Regions from separate parts of the Homo sapiens genome. Here region 2 is linked to region 1. Evidence: fine-mapped expression QTL. Tissue or cell type: minor salivary gland. Region 1 holds a variant in brackets; the other region holds the start of a gene. All regions are shown on one strand. Distances are between the middles of the regions.

Region 1 (8,257 bases):
GGCACCAATTACATCGAGACCCTCAGAGTGCAGGTACTGCTCCTTTCCCAGATAGAGCCCTGGGTTGGGGATAGGGCACACTGCGTCTAATATTGGCTTGTGGCCCACATAGCAGAACAGTGTGGGTTTCTGGCTTCAGTTGCCACACTGTCCAGGGAGCTTTGGCCTCACAAAGGTCCAGGAAATATTCAGAAGTCGGGTCAGGTATAGAGGTGAATACAGCAAGTAAGACCTCCCTCTTGCCAGAATCCATCCCTAAGACAAGCCAAGGAGATGCCGGAGATGACGCGTTTCCAGTCCTGGAAGAGGGCCTCTAGAAGATTCAGGAAAAGGGGGAGAACAGTCACATTTCGCCTCTCAAAAGAAGCATTGCCTTGACAGATCCATGCAAATTGTCGCATCCGACGGGTTTACTTCTCAGACAGACTCTACTCAGAAGATGAGCTGCCGGCAGAGTTCAAACTGTATCTCCCAGTTCAGAACAAGGCAAAGGTAAGCCAGTCTTCCCCAGAGGAAGGTCCACCAGTGAGTGGGGGGAGCTGTGTTCCTGGAAGGTGCTCTGGTCTAAGAATTCAGCTGCAGAGCCTCTCTGTGTTGACACTTTGGGGTGCCTTTATATCGCAAGATCTTAGGTCTCCTTCCAGCACTGAATCAGGAATGCTCCTGTGAAATACTCTGTTACTGCTGTTTCCCCTCTCCACGGTGAGAGGGGATGAGGCACTTCCTACTACTGGCTCACAGAACTTCAGAAAATATCTTAACTTTTTTTTTTTTTTGAGATGGAGTCTTGCCCTGTTGCCCAGGCTAGAGTGCAGTGGCACGATCTCAGCTCACTGCAACCTCTGCCTTCCAGGTTCAAGGGATTCTTGTGCCTCAGGCTCCTGAGTAGCTGGGATTACAGGCGCCTGCCACCATGCCCAACTAATTTTTAATTTTTATAGAGACGGGGTTTCACCATGCTGGCCAGGCTGGTCTCAAACTCCTGACCTCAAGTGATCCGCCTGCCTCGGCCTCCCAAACTGCTGGGATTACAGGCGTGAGCCACCGTGCCCAGCCCCATCTTAACTCTTAATCAGCCCAAAAGTATTATCAGCTGATAGGTCCCTGCTAACACAAGGGTGGGTGCTTCCCTGCCTGTGTGCTGCAGATGTGTGTCCATTCTCCACAGTCACTGTCCACTCAAGTGTCACCAGAGGCAGGGGGCCTGTGACACTGACCATCTATTTTCTAGTAACTTAAACTGATGCCACTTCTCTGTTTTTTCCCTTCAGCAATAACTGGAATTGTGACTCGAGGGATAGACCCCTGGATGTGACTCTTCTTTTTAAAAGGAAACTATGTGGAGGACGATGCAAAAACATATTTATCTTAGTTTGCTCTGCTGTAGTTCTGTTATTTATACTTGGTGTTGCTTGTCATGGACACCGGTGAACATGCCGTAACTCTGTGACTGCATTGTAAGTGCAGTGGGGGTAAGCAGTCCTGTGAGTGGCGCATGAACGCTGGAGCTTATTCCGCCGCCTGCCCCAGTGTGGGGGGAGATACCTTTACCATGAACTTACAGAATTAAAGATGGCCCATAAGGAATTCCAGACCAATATTTCTTCCTGCGGTTTATTCTATGTTTTATATATTATCTAAATATATGTATATGCTGTGTCATACTCATAATCTGGAAATGAATAAAGTGATATATTCCTGGTTTGTAAATTTGTTCCTAGTTTGTCTTTTTTCATGGTGATGTTTGTTTCCTTTGTGATATGAAAAGAGAACTATTTCCATTGAACATCTTATACATTTCATGCTGTGAAATGTCTTGTATTAAGTATCTAAAGAACAAGACATATTATGCAGCTGACCCTTGAACAACACAGGTTTGAACTGTGCGGGTCCATTTATATGAGGATTTTCTTCCACCTCTGCCACCCCTGAGACAACAAACCAGTCCCTCCTCCTCTCCCTCCACCTCCTCCTCTTCCCCTCCTCATCAATGTGAAGACAACAATGATGAAGACCTTTATGATGATCCACTTAATGAATAGTAAATATATTTTCTCTTCTTTATGATTTTCTTAATAACGTTTTCTGTAGCCTACCCTATTGTGAGAATACAAAATACAGTATGTAATTCATACAAAATATGTGTTGAATGGCTGTTTATATTATCAGTAAGGGTTCTAGTCAACAGAAGGCTATAGTAGTTAAGCTTTGGGAGAGTCAAAAGTTATACATAGATTTTTGCATAAGGGGGTCGGTGCCTCTAACCTCTGAGTTGTTCAAGGGTCAACTGTATAAACTGGTTCAGAACAACTTTGAAGACTAAATGGGAAAAAAAAAATAGTATGTGACCAGTGGAATCATCTTGCTAGGGGTTGGGTCCTAGGTTGAGCTTAAGACAGAATGACATAGTCTAAATTGCACCTAAAGCATTGGAGCAGATCACCATTTCTCTATTTGAGTTCCCGCTGAAGTACTACTGGCCTTGAATGTAGGGACTTAAAGAAAAATGTTTCTTTTTTTGAAACGGAGTCTCACTCTGTCGCCCAGGCTGGAGTGCAGTGGCAACATCGCAGCTCACTGCAAGCTCCTCCTTCTGGGTTCACACCATTCTCCTGCCTCAGCCTCCTGAGTAGCTGGGATTACAGGCGCCCGCCACCACGCCCAGCTAATTTTTTTCTATTTTTAGTAGAGACGGAGTTTCACGGTGTTAACCAGGATGGTCTTGATCTCCTGACCTCATGATCCGCCCGCCTCGGCCTCCCAAAGTGCTGGGATTACAGGCGTGAGCCACTGCGCCCGGCCAGAAAAATGTTTCTTTAAACGCTGGAATCGCATGAGGGAACTGGAACCTTACACCACTTTTCCCACTGTGCTTATTCTGGGCAGATGCCTGTTGAGTGGAATGACACTGGCACTATTGCCTGCTTTTTTCTTTTTCTCTTTTCTTTTTTTTTTGGTTAGGCACAGATGAATTTGCAAAAGTTAAGCACTGTATATGATACAACTCTACCACATGCAACATTTCTGAGGGGAAAGCAATTTGAGGGCAGAGAAAAGCACTTATCAGCATCCCCCTATTAGGTGGTGTCCTATATGATCTTGAAGGACACACAACTAATACAGTGATTACCTGGGCAGAATGATTTTGTTGTGTTTTTTTAAATCACTTGTATACTCTCTTCTACTATTAAAAAAAACAATGTTTTTGGCCAGGCGTGGTGGCTCACGCCTGTAATCCCAACACTTTGGGAGGCCAAGGCAGGCAGATCACTTGAGGTCAGGAGTTTGAGACCAGCCTGGCCAACATGGTGAAACCCCATCTCTACCAAATATAAAAAATTAGCTGGGTGTGGTGGCGCGCTTCTGTAATCCCAGCTGCTTGGGAGGCTGAGGCAGGAGAATTGCTTGAACCTGGGAGGCAGAGGTTGCAGTGAGCTGAGATAGTGCCACTGTACTCCAGCCTGGGTAACAGCAAGACTCTATCTCAAAAAAAAAATTTTTTTTGGAAAGACATTTTTGTAATAAAAATTTCAAAGTTAATGCAAGAGCAAAAGGCTATTCCAGATTCTGTGCCCTCCCCAGTCACTCCCCGGGGTTTGCTGTCATTGCACAGACTGGAA[C/T]TGTGGGCACCTGCCATTTTGACTTTGGTTAGAGGTAAAAACATTAAGTTCTGGGATTTGTCATTACCATTGCTGCCTTCTGAGAAGTTAAATGGCAGGAAGCACGCTTTCCCCACATCCGTATCCTCCAGAGTATGCTGTGGGGAAGCATGGCCAAGTCTCTGAGGAGGCAGGGGCTACAGGAGGTGGAGAAGTGGAGGGGAGGGTGCTCCACAGCTACCTGATGAGACAGTTGTCAAGTGCCTGAAACTCAGGTGGGCGCAGTTAAGACAACTTTCCCCTTTTTCCTTCTGCTGGTGACCAGCCTGGAGCCACCTTCTGGAGGATGCTGCCCCTCTCCTTTGAGTCCCTAGTCATCAGCATCACAGAACACACCCCCTCAGCCCAGGTGACAGAGCCTGCTCTTGCAGGGCTAACTCTGGTCAAAACTGAACGTCGTCCTGCTTCCCTGTGCTTAGCATGTCAGCATCCCCCTCTTAGGCAGTGTGCCTGTCTCCTTCACTTTCTTGCTTACAATAGGAATCCTCAAATGGCTGAGTGGGTGGAGGGGTGGGCAATAACCAACAGAGTGTCTAGCCTCTGGCCACTGTCTAGTGAAATCTTCCCTCCAATCCAGACTCGATTATGGCATGAAAGATGCTTTTGTGATGACAAGAAAACCGCGTTAACTTCTCATCTCTTCTGGGTGCCAGGATATCAGTGAAGTGCTCCTGGGGGTTCAGAGCAACACAGGGAGGCACTCTCCTCCACACAGAGCCTCTTTCACCCCAGGCACTTGTTAGACCGTGTCTGGGGATTACCTCACCACCCTTTGGGGTGGTAGGTGGTGACTTCCCAGATGCCTCACATACCCATCCCAGAGGAAGAAGGAAGCGAGGGGCCCCGGGGGTGATGAGAGGTATTATCTGAGCTGGCCCCAGGCCAGGGTGAATAGTGGTGTCATGACTGCACAGCCCCTTGCCTGCAGCTTTCCAGCTCCCCAGGAAGACGACAACCTCCAGTGAGGCTGAGGGAAGAGGGAATGACAGGCTGCTGGGCTGAGGCGCCCTCATGGAGTTTGGGCCTGGGTGATCTCGGATCACGGTAATTGGAGCAGGCAGAATTGCATTATCCAGCTCCTTGGAAGTCACAGTGTGTTTTAGAAGGAATTGCCCTCTAAATGAGAGAGTGTTAGTTAATTGGCATGAACTTGGAATAGCACACAGCCGTTCCCAACAGGGCTGATTCTGGGGGAGAGTAGATTTACTCTGGCCCTTAATTGCCCCTGGCCCGTTGATTGCTTCCTCTATAGCCAGGCTAGAAGACTGGCCGGCGCCACACCAGTCAGCTCCTGGGGCATTTCTGAAGGTTGCAAGAATCCCAGAGAACAACCCCAAACCGATGTCCCTAGCCCCTCAGTGGCTTCACCCAGAAGCCCTAAGTGTCAGGAAATTCACTGAAAAAGATCTTGCAGCTCTTGTCTGCATCCTCATCCCCTCATTTTACTGATCAGGACACTGAAGCCCAGAGAGGGATGGGCTAGCCCCTCTAGAAACAACGGGGTGGAACGAGGACCCCATGCTCCTGAGGAGACCCATATGCCATCCCTGTCCTCTTTTGTGTTGGCATCCCCTTGCATCAAGCACTGGAGTCAGCTCTGCCCAGCAGTGAGGGCTGGCCTGCCCAGTCACTATGTGGTCACATATTAGTTGAACACAAGGGTCTGAGGCTGACAGTAAAAATCTCATTTGTGTTTAACCAGGGAATCATAAAAGTAATACATGCTCATGGTACATTCATGAGCTCATGGTTCAAAGAATATGAAGGGCTGGGCACGCCTGTAATCCCAGCACTTTGGGAGTTCGAGGCAGGTGGATCACTTGAGATCAGGAGTTTGAGACCAGCCTGGCCAACAGGATGAAAGCCCATCTCTACTAAAATACAAAAAAATTAGCCGGGCGTGGTGGCGTGCACTGCTAATCCCAGCTACTCAGAAGGCAGAGGCAGGAGAATTGCTGGAACTTGGGAGGCGGAGGTTGCAGTGAGCTGAGATCGCACCACTGTACTCCAGCCTGGGCAACAAGAGTGAAACTCCATCTCAAAAAAAAAAAAGAAAGAATATAAAGTAACATATAAGTCCCACTTCCCATTTCTGAAATGACAGCACCCGAATGTATTAACAGAATGTAGTTGCCCTTTCTTCCTGCACCCAGCCGCCTAGCATGAACAGCTTTTTCAGTTTCCTGATCGCTGTCATGTGTGTTCTCTCAGGAGCCTGGGAAGGCCTGGCACTGCAGATGACTTCTAACGACAATGGAGACCCACGCAGTACATGGCAGTGCTTTTCAGAAGGTAGCATGCTTTCATAGCCGTTGCATGTGGCGCCCTTGGGATCCTGTCTGGAAGGTTATATGTGGCGCTGCCCCCATCTATGGACAAGCACAGAAGTTAAATAGCTCACAGGGGCTGCATGGCTCACATGGGCCAGAGCTGGGAATAAAGCCTAGGGCTTCCTGCTAGAAGGTCAGGCTCCTGATGCTGAGCACAAGTGTCTGCTCATAAGGCATCTAGAATAGACTTGAATAGGCCGGGCACAGTGGCTCATGCCTGCAATCCCAGCACTTTGGGAGGCCGAGGCGAAAAGAACAACTGAAGTCAGAAGTTTGAAACCAGCCTGGCCAACATGGTGAAACCCTGTCTCTACTAAAAACGTAAAAATTAGCTGGGCATGGTGGGCACCTGTAATCCCAGCTACTCAGGAGGCTGAGTCAGGAAAATCGCTTGAACCCGGGAGGCGTAGGTTGCAGTAAGCCAAGATTGTGCCACTGCACTCCAGCCTGGGCAACAGAGCAAGACTGTCTCTAAATAAATAAGGATAGACCTAATTGGTTGGAGGGCGGGGGGTGCACAATGTACCTTTCCCACAGGAAGATGAATCTACTGAATTTTAATTCATATTCTTAAATTATGTTGCTGGGCCAGGCACAGTGGTTCATGCCTGTAATCCCAGCACTTTGGGAAGCCAAGGCGGGATGATCACCTGGGACCAGGAATTTAAGACCAGCCCAGGCAACACACCGAGACCCCATCTCTACAGAAAATAAAAAACTTAGCCAGGCATGGTAGCATGCATCTGTAGTCTCAGCTACTGGGGAGTCTGAGGTGGGAGGATCACTTGAGTCGGGGAGGTGGAGGCTGCAGTGAGCTATGATTGCACCACTGCACTCCAGCCTGGGTAACAGAGCAACACTCTAAAAAAATAAATAAAAATCCAGCAAATTCAGAGTCCTTGGCCCTGGCCTATTTAAAATGCATATTTCTGGGACCCAGCTTATTAAAATGACAATTGTCCCCACCCCAAGAGATAACATTTTTATTCTCTCTCTCTGTCTAAAGCCAACCCAGAAATCTGCATCTTAATACCTTCTCCTGGTGTTTTTTGGTGATTCTGTCATCTGAGAGTGGCTCCACATTTGAGTGAGTGGATATGATACATCTGAGCGTAGAGAGGTCAGACACTGCTGGGAGAGAAAAGAAACGTAAAACACCGCCCTCCCCGCCCCCACCCACCACCCAGGCACATCTGCAGATTGCAACCTCCTCCTACCAAAAACAAACAAACAAAAGAACCCTTAAGTTCCTCCTTTTATACAGAATTCTAATATGTCATTGACATCTCCATACATTTTCCATAACCTGAAAGTGTGAGGTCCTGTAATGCAAATCACGAGTGCCTCTGGGCTGTGATAGAGGCACTCCAAATTGCAAATCCACAAGACATTGAACATCTGGATAGAGCATGAGCCTTGGAAAAATCATGCCTCTTGGTATCCATGGTGTCTGAAGCGAAGCAAAGCAAAACAGTGTGCCAGGGGTGGATATGGAAAGGGATTGAACAGAACCCCTTGTTAAAGGGGTATAAAAGGTCACCAAGCTCCTCTACTCTTCTATTGAATGACAGCAATAAATATCAATATAAGCCTCCATGGGTTCTCTCATCACTTGGGTATCCCCCAGCCCCTGTTTCCATAAAGTCTTAAATTGTAAATCCTGGTATTTTGGAGGGAATACAGTAAAATCAATAAATACAGTAAAATCGGGCCATAAATACACTAGCCTTTGGGTTCCAAGTCACTCTCCAAAGCTCCTTCCCATCCTCCAAGACTGTCCTCATGTTTACTTGAACCTAAAGCCTCTTTACAAGCCTGAGACCTCTTTTCTTGGTATTAGAAACTGACCTAAGCCCCCAGCAGTAAAAGGCAGGGAGAGCTGTAGTTCTCATTCCCTCCACCTGACTGCTGGTAGTGTGCTACAATGAAAGCAAATCTCAGCCCTTAAGGAAGGAGAAAAAAAATTATTAGTGAGCATGCAAAATAGGTTCATGCCACCTACACCTAAAGCTCGGTGGAAGTGCATGTTTTAGGATGTATGATGATATGGTTTGGCTGTGTCTCCACCCAAGTCTCAAATTGTAGCTTCCATAACTCCCCTGTGTTGTGAGAGGGACCTGGTGGCGGGTCTTTGCCATGCTGTTCTTGTGATAGTGAATAAGTCTCATGAGATCTGATGGTTTTATTTAATTATTATTATTATTATTATTATTATTGAGACAGAGTCTTGCTCTGTCACCCAAGCTGGAGTGCAGTGGCATGATCTTA
Region 2 (8,000 bases), 85 kb after region 1:
GCCACCTAAGCCTTGGGATGATATGGAGGATACCCATTCTGATTTGATCTGGAAAGTAGTGGTTCTCATAGTGACCACCACAGCTAGCCTGAGGCAGAGGTCAAACTCCCAGCAGGGCAGAGGTGATGATGGAAGGGATCATCTGGACCAAACAACAAAAGGGCCACAGAGGGACAGCAGAACAAACCGCTCGGCAGGGAGGGGCTTTTCCACGCCTGCAGTGTAGCCATCCTGAATGGGCATAAGAGATAGCAGTGGGCACTGGGCTTTTGGGGAAAGTCTTCTTTTGGGGGTGGGGATAGCGTGTATTTCCATGTTGCTCCTCTCCACATTCATGGATATCTTTTAAGTATCAACATCCCTTGGGGTGGGGCAAAGGAGGTATTTATGTTCAGAGGTCACAATGGGAAGGTCAGGCCAATACACTGCTCAGACAAGGAGCTTACACTGGGCTGTTCTCTGCAAGGAGACAGATGACTGGCTGGACCCAAGGGCAGCCCCAACTCGGAAACATGGCAAGGGCTGGGTGTGAAGGGCATGGCCCAATGAGATCTAGGTCCCTGGCTGTGCCAATCAGACCAGTTCTCTCTGGGTCTTGACAGAGCATGGAGAGGAGTGATTTACTACTAGCAAGAAAACAGAGTAAAAAGCAGAGACAAGAGGGGAGGGGGAGAAGATTCAGCTTCTGCAGATTCCCAATGACAAGGCCCCGCTATTAACTCCCTTTTCTTAGCTGGTGGGCACAGATGGCATCTGTAGTTTTGCTCTGTTTAAAAGAAAGAGGGGACCAGTGGGGCCCCCCCGGAGCCAGCATGGAAGTGCTAGTAGAGACTGAAGCTAAGGAAGCCCAAGACTGTGGCTCACCTGAAGGTCAAAATGGTAATTCACGCTGACCCCCTCCCAACGCCCCCACCCCCGCTGCCTCATCTACTCAGTGGCTGGGTAGGGGCTAGGAAGATACTCGTGGGCCTGTTGAGGAAAGGCGGGTGGATCGGTTTTGGTGGTGGTGGCACCACCCCTGTGAACTCTGGCAGCCTGAGTCACCTCCACAGAGCAGGCTGAGGACCTGAATTGTGCCTGGGAGGAGGGGGTAGGGGGAGGCAGGTGAGATAAGAGCTCCCCCGGTGAGCCTGGAGACTCTCAGCCCTGCAGGGCAGGAACAACAGTGAGCACCTCAGCCAGGTGGGGATCTGGCCCGGAATGGCTACAGACTGGGATTGGACATCCAAGGGAGAATGTGGGATAGGACGTGGCAGCTCAGTGGTGGGCTAGGGCCTGGCAGGTTGCAGGTGTTTGTCAGTTCCTAGCACATGCCAGGCTCCTTGATGTCTCAGCCTCGTGAAAGTCCTGTGGCTTCCACCCTGGGAGGGGAGAGAGGAAGTGGAGAGAGGCTGGCCTTGGCTCAGCTGCCAAGCTGCTCCGAGAAGGTCCCAGCTGTGACCCTACTGGAGGCCTGAGGCTGTGTGGATGCTGGGGTGAGGATGAGAGAGCCAGCCTTCTCCAAGGAAGGGAGGCTCAACACAGGGTGTAGGCCAGGCCCAGGAGTCTGAGGCCACAGCCCCCGGCAGATGGGCTGGCTGCTGAGGCCATTTGACTCTTTGGGCCCACATGTGGCCAGACCTGATGGGACCCTAGAAGCAGCCTGTACCCAAAGCCAACTGTAGGAGCTGGGACACTCCACCTGTCTCTAGCCCTCTATCTGCATGGCTGCCAACATTCAAGGCTCCTTAAACCTTCCGGGGTCTCTTCCAGTCACTGCCCAGGTCCAACCCAAGTGTTTCCCCAGGAGTAGGGCTCCAGGACAGTCACAACCTCCAGATCAGGAGCACGGTTTGTGATAACGCAACCATGGCTTCTTCCCTGGCGGCATCGAGCTGTGGGCACTCCCTGAGCTGGGGAGTTGGGGTAGGGGTGAGATGGAACTGGAAAAGCAGAAGAGAGAGAGAGTGAAGCCCCTCCAACTACAGGTCCCTGCACCCCTGAGCTCCTGGCCAGCTAGGATGCCATTAGCAATGCACGGCCATTGAATTCCATCACTGCTTCCTATGTATTGACGCCATCCCTAAGTAGATTAGAAACTCAATGGTGGGACTGTGACTTGAAATTCTTTGGCACTCCAGCCCAGAGTGGCAGGTGGGCCCAAATGGCACTCTCCGCCCAGTACTTGGGTCACAGGCTGAGGGGTAATCCTCACCAACAGGAGCCCCCTAAAGCTCCTCCTGCCTGTGTGAATGGGGTGGGGGAGGGTGGCCAGACTGGGTCGGGGCGGGGCTCCTATCCTGCCTCCCACCAGGGCCTGGCTCCTCCTTCAGCTCTCCCTGGCCAGGCCAGGGAGGGAGGGCAGAGCAGGTGGGGAAATGGCTGGGAGGTGTAACTCGAGCCCAGGAGGAATTCCCTGCCCTTCCTCTATGCTTTTATTAAAGTAGGGCGGGGAAGGGCAAGCTTCCATCGGAAAAATCTCCCAGGCAGCCCGGAGAGGTGGGAAAGCCGCCGTGGGCCAGGGAGGGAGCACCAGCTGAGCTGCAAATAGAAACGGCGCTCAGGCCCGCAGCCCGGGCAGCCCAAGGGCACCAAGGCCTGAGCACCGTTCAGAAGCGGCTCCGGGGTGGTTCTTTCTCCCTACTCCCCGCCCAAGTCCTCTCCCCGCCTATCTGGGGCAGGGCGCAGGTCTTAGAAGTCGGGGAAGAGTGGACCCTGCTCTTGCTCTGGGGCAAGAAAGCTGGCGCCTTCGGTGTCCTCGCTCGGGAGACACCATGGAGCTGGGGCGCTGGCTGGACTCGGCTCTACGCCGGGATGTCGCGCCTGGTCACCCGCGGGACCCATCCAGAGCGGGGCCCCGGGAGGGACGCCAAGCGGGCTCCTAGCGAAGAGAGGCGCGGGGTCCACCCTCTCGAATCCAGGGCTTCGACGTAGGGGCGCTGTTGGGAGGAAGCGCTGTGGGAGGCAGGGTCCGTCCTTAGGACCCCGCCCGGGCGTGCCTAGGCTTCCTCGCAAAAGCGCAGAAAGTCGCCAAAGCGCCCCCGCAACCCGAGTCCGCTGCCTCAGCCGTTTGCACCCATCCCCCCGCCTCCATCCTGGCCCGCCGTGCGCGGCTCGGTATCACCCAGACGGGAGGCCACCTGGGCAGGAGCGCAGTTGCCCAGCCGCCCAGCTCTTGCTCCGCCTGTGGCTGTCCCCGAGAGCAGCCCCCTCCCCACTCGCAAAGAGCGCCACTGCGCGCCAGCCGGGCTCTCGAGGAATCGGCTGCCCTGGAGGGAAGGAAGGAGGGGAGGCAAGGGCTGGGGGCGGCGGAAGCGGCTCCCGGGACACAGGCTGAATGTAAGGGGGTCGGGGTGGGGGCTCAGTGCCCAGAACAGGGCTGTAGGAGTAGCGGGGAGGAGAGCGAGGCCCTGCGCCCTCAAGGGTTTGCGAAGAGGTGCGCTGCAGAGGGCGAGCTGGGGAGGGGCAGACTGCCAAGTCCGCTTGCTTCCCCGCCACGGCCCAGAACAGGGGGCGCGTCTCCGCTCCCTCCACCTCCAAGTCCCAGCCTGCGGACGTGGCGCCTCTCCCTCCAAGCCCCCAGCCCGCAGCCAAAGGGCAGGGCGGGGGTCTTACCTCGGCATGGACCTCCGCGTCTTCGGCCGCTACGCCAAGGCCCAGGCAGCCCAGAAGCACCAGGAGCAGCGGCAGCAGTCGCGGCCGCGCCGCCTCCTCCCGGTCGCCGAGGAGGCTGCCCGTCCAGCCCGGCCGTCCGGGCGCGCTCGGGTCGCTGCCCATGCTCTCGGCGCCCAGCCCAGCTCGGAACACTGCACGCCGGATCCTCGCACGCGCCTTGGAAACTTGCGACGCTCCCTGGCTCCTGGCCCGGCAGGCGCGCCGCGGACCTCGGGCTCCCGGTCCCCGCCGGAGCCGCCTAGGTCGCCTCGGCAAATTCCCAAGCCCGAGGAGAAGCGGGCAGGGCAGGTCCGGGAGCTCGGAACCAGCCGGCGGGAAAGGGGGCCGACCGGAGCTGCCCCCGGCGAGGTTCCGCAGCCTCGGCGCCCAGCGCCTGGGGCCCGGCTCCCGAGAGCAAGCGCAACTCCGGAGCCTTTGTCTGGCTCAGCGCTCCGGCCGCCCGGTCCCGCGGCGCTCCCTGCGCGCCCAGCTCCCTCTGTCCATGCCCGGGGCCGGGCGCTGCCCGGAGCGCGCGCCTCCTGCACGGGGATTCTGCTCGCCGCCGCGCCCGACCGGGCCCGGGTCCCCAAGCAGTCCCGGGAGGAGGCGCAGGGAGCCGACCCGAGAGAGCGAGCGAGAGAGCAAGCGAGCCAGCCAAGGAGCGGGCGCCCGACGTCCCCGGCGAGTTCAGCGCGGCTCCGGGCGCTCCCAGCCCTCCTCCCCGCGCGCCGCGGCCGCCGCGCTCTTAAAGGGCCAGTGTGCTCCCAATGCGCGGACCCGGGCGGGGACCGGGGGCGGTGCCCCAGCCGCAGGCTTCTCACAAGCAGGTGCGGGCGGCCGAGGCCCGACAGGTGGGCGGTCCGTTTACGCTTCCCAGACGGCAGGAAACCTCTCCAGCCCACCCCGCGTCACTCCCAACCCAGCGCCTAGGGGGCGGGGGTGACCTCCAACGCGACCCCCCGCGGAGGGAGGAGGCAGGGAAGGCGTGGTCTCCCCGCCTGGGAAGAATGAAGACTCCTCCTTCTCATACCTGGTGGGGGATACCGAGGCCTAGGCGGACGGGAAGGAGGTCTTAGGGGAGGGATCAAAGAGTCGTTTTAGGCTTAAATATAAATATATATGTATATATGGATATTTGTCAGCCTGAAACCTCTTTTCAAAAGCCGCAGGGTGTCTCTGGCCATTGAATAACTTTCCTCAGTAGCAAAGTGAGGGTTTTGTGCGCGTCGAGGGCGCGTTGCGGCGGACAAGGGGCAGGTTTAGGAGGGACACGGTTCAAGTTCCGCGTCCGCCCCTTAGCTGCCGCTTGCACGTGGGCAAATTAATCTCTCCGAGCCTCCATGTTCTTATCGGGAACGTGGGGCAAAGAGTTGGGGTGAGGGCGAGGTAAGACTTCCGGCTCCTGGCCTGGCGCAATAGGTGCCCAAGCACTTTGGCCACTGGCTGGTGCGAGTGAAGTGCGACAGTGCGGCCGGAGTCGGCGCGGGGCGGGTGGACACACCTCCCCGCGAAGCTTAACGAGCTGGATTTCATTCTATTCCGGAAGCAGCTTGAGGTCGGGGCGGGGTGGATGCAGGAGGCCAGAGCTGGGAGGCCCGGGTCGAAGGTCCACCGAGACCCGGGGACCAGGCCAAGGGCAGCCCTGGCGCGGCGGACTGGCCGGCGTGGTCAGTGGGTGAGGGTTGCAGGCAGGAGGGCGGAGACCGAAGATAAGCTGTTCCTTATCTTCAGACCCGGAAATGGAAGCCGTCCTCACCTGAGGGCGGTTTTCTCTAGAGCAGGCCCTCGGGGCACCCTAGCCGGCCTCACCTCCCGGAAACTGGAAATCAGGAGACCTGGCAGAGTGCCTTAGAGAGGGCGCGTTTGAACCCTCCTGGGATGTCCTTGGGGAAAGGAAGTCGGAGTTTAGAGAAAGGAACCGGGCGATTCTATCATTTCCACGGACTCACTTCTCTGTGGGATCCTTCATCTGGGAAGTTGGTTTCTAAATTCTCCACTTCGAAATTTGCTTTTGGGAAATGTGCAGTGGTCTTCAGACACGGACAACGGGGTTGTCCTTGTTTAACCGACCACGTCGCACTCTTTCATGATATTTAGTCCCGATTAGCCAATTTTAAAAAGTTTGGGGCTAGGTAAAGTGGCTCAAGCCTGTAATCCCAGCACTTTGGGAGACCGAAGTGGGAGGATTGCTTTAGCCCAGGAGTTCAAGACCAGCCTGGGCAACATGACAAGACCCCATCTGTACAAAGAATACAAAAATTAGCCAGGTGTGGTGGTGTACGTCTGTAGGCCCAGCTACTTGGGAGGCTGAGTTGGGAGGATCACTTGAACCCAGGAGGTTGAGGATGCAGTGAGCTATGATCATGCCGCTGCCCTTCAACCCGGCTGTCAGAGCGAGACACTGTCTCAGAAAAAAAGAAAAAAAAAGTTGGGGTTTAAGGGGCTAGCTGTTAGTGAGAGGAGCCCAGGAATGAGTGGAGCAACGTTCTTTGAGGCCTGGGTCGGTCAAGTCTGGTGATTTTCTCTCTGTTGGAGGTTCCTCTCTTGGGGTCCAATCCTGCCTTAAGGAAATGACATCCCCTGTGACCAGATCTTGAAGCTCCCAATTATTGGTTCTGGCTCCTATAGGTACTTTGGGAGTCCAAGGTGGATTTGCATCTACATCCAACCCAAGATAGCTGGGTTTCTACTGGGTCTGGACAGCACCCAAAGCCCGAAAGGACTAGTCAGTGGGACTGAGATGTGTGAACTGCAGCCCTTCCATCAAGTAGCTTTAAACCTTATCCATATTTTGCCAATACCGTTTCATCTATGCCCTGACACCCCCGCCCACCACCACACACCTTTTTTTTCTTGGTCTTTTGAATGAAAGCCCAGACATGGTGTTTCAGAGCAGTTTCATTTAGAGGTCCCGATGTGGTGTGAGGGATTGTAAAAAGCTCTGGATCAGAAGCCAGGTCCCTGGGTTTTTGCCTCAGCTGTAATTTACTGGGCAATCCGAGCAAGTTATTCCCCTCTTTGGGTTTGTTTCCTCATTTGCAAAAGGAGAGTTCTGAGGTCGTAGGGGAGGTCTCCTGTTCAGTGAAGGAAAGTAGCTGTGGGATGGAACTAGGCCCAGGACACCCCCTCCCCCAGCTCTCCCCTCCAGGGGCCCCTCGGGCGATGCACCCACCCGACCCACCATCAAAGGTGAAGCAGGCCTTGGGACTCTTCGTGCCAAGACAAGGAATAAACAAACAAGCCAAGGTAATTTCCCTCTCCCTTGGAAACAAAGCTGGGGTGGTCTGGAGAGGCGCTGGAGAGTGCCAGGTGGAAATCAGCCAAACAGGCGTGAGATGATTTCCCTGCCCTGCGGGGAACATCTGAGGACACCGAGGCCAGATGTGTTGATTTTGTACTCTCCCTGGTGCGATAAAATCCTCATCAAGAGCATTTCTTTGGGCCAGCCTCCCTGGGGGGGACCGCAGCCTTCTCTGGTCTTCCCTCTGTCTCCAGAATTGTCTCCCATGTTTCTCCTCTTATGGAGAATCTCCTGTTATGGAAGAGCCCCGGCTGCTTCTGCACTGTCAGCGGGAGCGCTCGCTCAACGGGCTTACTCTGCTCCAGAGGCACACTCAGTGTCTGGGTGCCCGCCAAGCTCCTGCCGCCAGCCTCCTCCTCAGGCCCAGCCTGCCCACCCCTCCCCCTCAGCGAGACTCCTGCTTCCTTCCTCCATTGCCACCTTCCATTCTCCATTGAGGAGCCAGTTATTGATCTTGGCCCATTTCTCAAAGTTGCTGCACTCAAATTCCATCCTCAGCACAGACAGACTCCCCAGCCACATCCTCCCCCAGGGGAATGGCCCAGTCCCTCTTCCTGGGCTTGTTGATGGAGGCCCTACCTCACACCTGCCCCCCTCCCAATAGGAGCCAGTACCCAAGTCTGGGGAAGTACCATGTTGAGGATGGGGATTCTTCTCTGTGCTCCCTGCCTGCTCAGCCCTGCTGTGAGCACCCAGAGGGTAGACCTAGTCTGGTTCACCAAGTGCCCAGTTCAGGGCCTGGCACAGGGCAGGTGTCAGTTAAGTGCAGGCTGCACAGCCGGAGTTGCCATGTTGCTTGCAAGCCAGAAAGTATGCCCGGCATCCTCCTCCTCTCCAGAAGAACCAGACTAATGATGAGTCGGAGTCAGCAGATCAATGCGGTGGGGAGCAGGAACAAGGCACAGAATGTGCCTGTGTCTTTCAGTGCAGTGGCTGGGAGGCTGCCCCTTTCAGGAAAGGTGGGGTTGCAGGGGCCACCATGGGAGCCTGGGCAACAGGCCCCTCTCCCCACACCTTTCCCTGAAGCCCTATGTCCCCACCCAGATGCCAGGCCTGACCACGAGGT

What was found. PIP is the estimated chance that this variant, and not a neighbour inherited with it, causes the effect.
Region 2: it holds the start of MMP15, and the variant in region 1 is fine-mapped to the expression of MMP15 in minor salivary gland (GTEx, PIP 0.98).

Annotation. Positions count from the first base shown.
Region 1 is chr16:58,107,045-58,115,301 of GRCh38, reverse strand. CFAP20 (cilia and flagella associated protein 20) reads left to right here. Exons shown (of 6, transcript NM_013242.3): 4 at 1-33; 5 at 382-492; 6 at 1,272-1,710. The coding sequence ends at 1,277. Among named protein-coding and RNA genes, the nearest start is that of CFAP20, 18 kb to the left of the region's middle. RefSeq lists an enhancer at 5,815-5,864. The variant C/T (reference allele first, on the strand shown) is at 3,621.
Region 2 is chr16:58,022,107-58,030,106 of GRCh38, reverse strand. MMP15 (matrix metallopeptidase 15) reads right to left here and starts at 4,353. Exons shown (of 10, transcript NM_002428.4): 1 at 3,595-4,353. The coding sequence starts at 3,756. RefSeq lists enhancers at 2,689-3,238, 3,789-4,338, 4,571-5,156, 5,157-5,744 and a silencer at 4,205-4,344.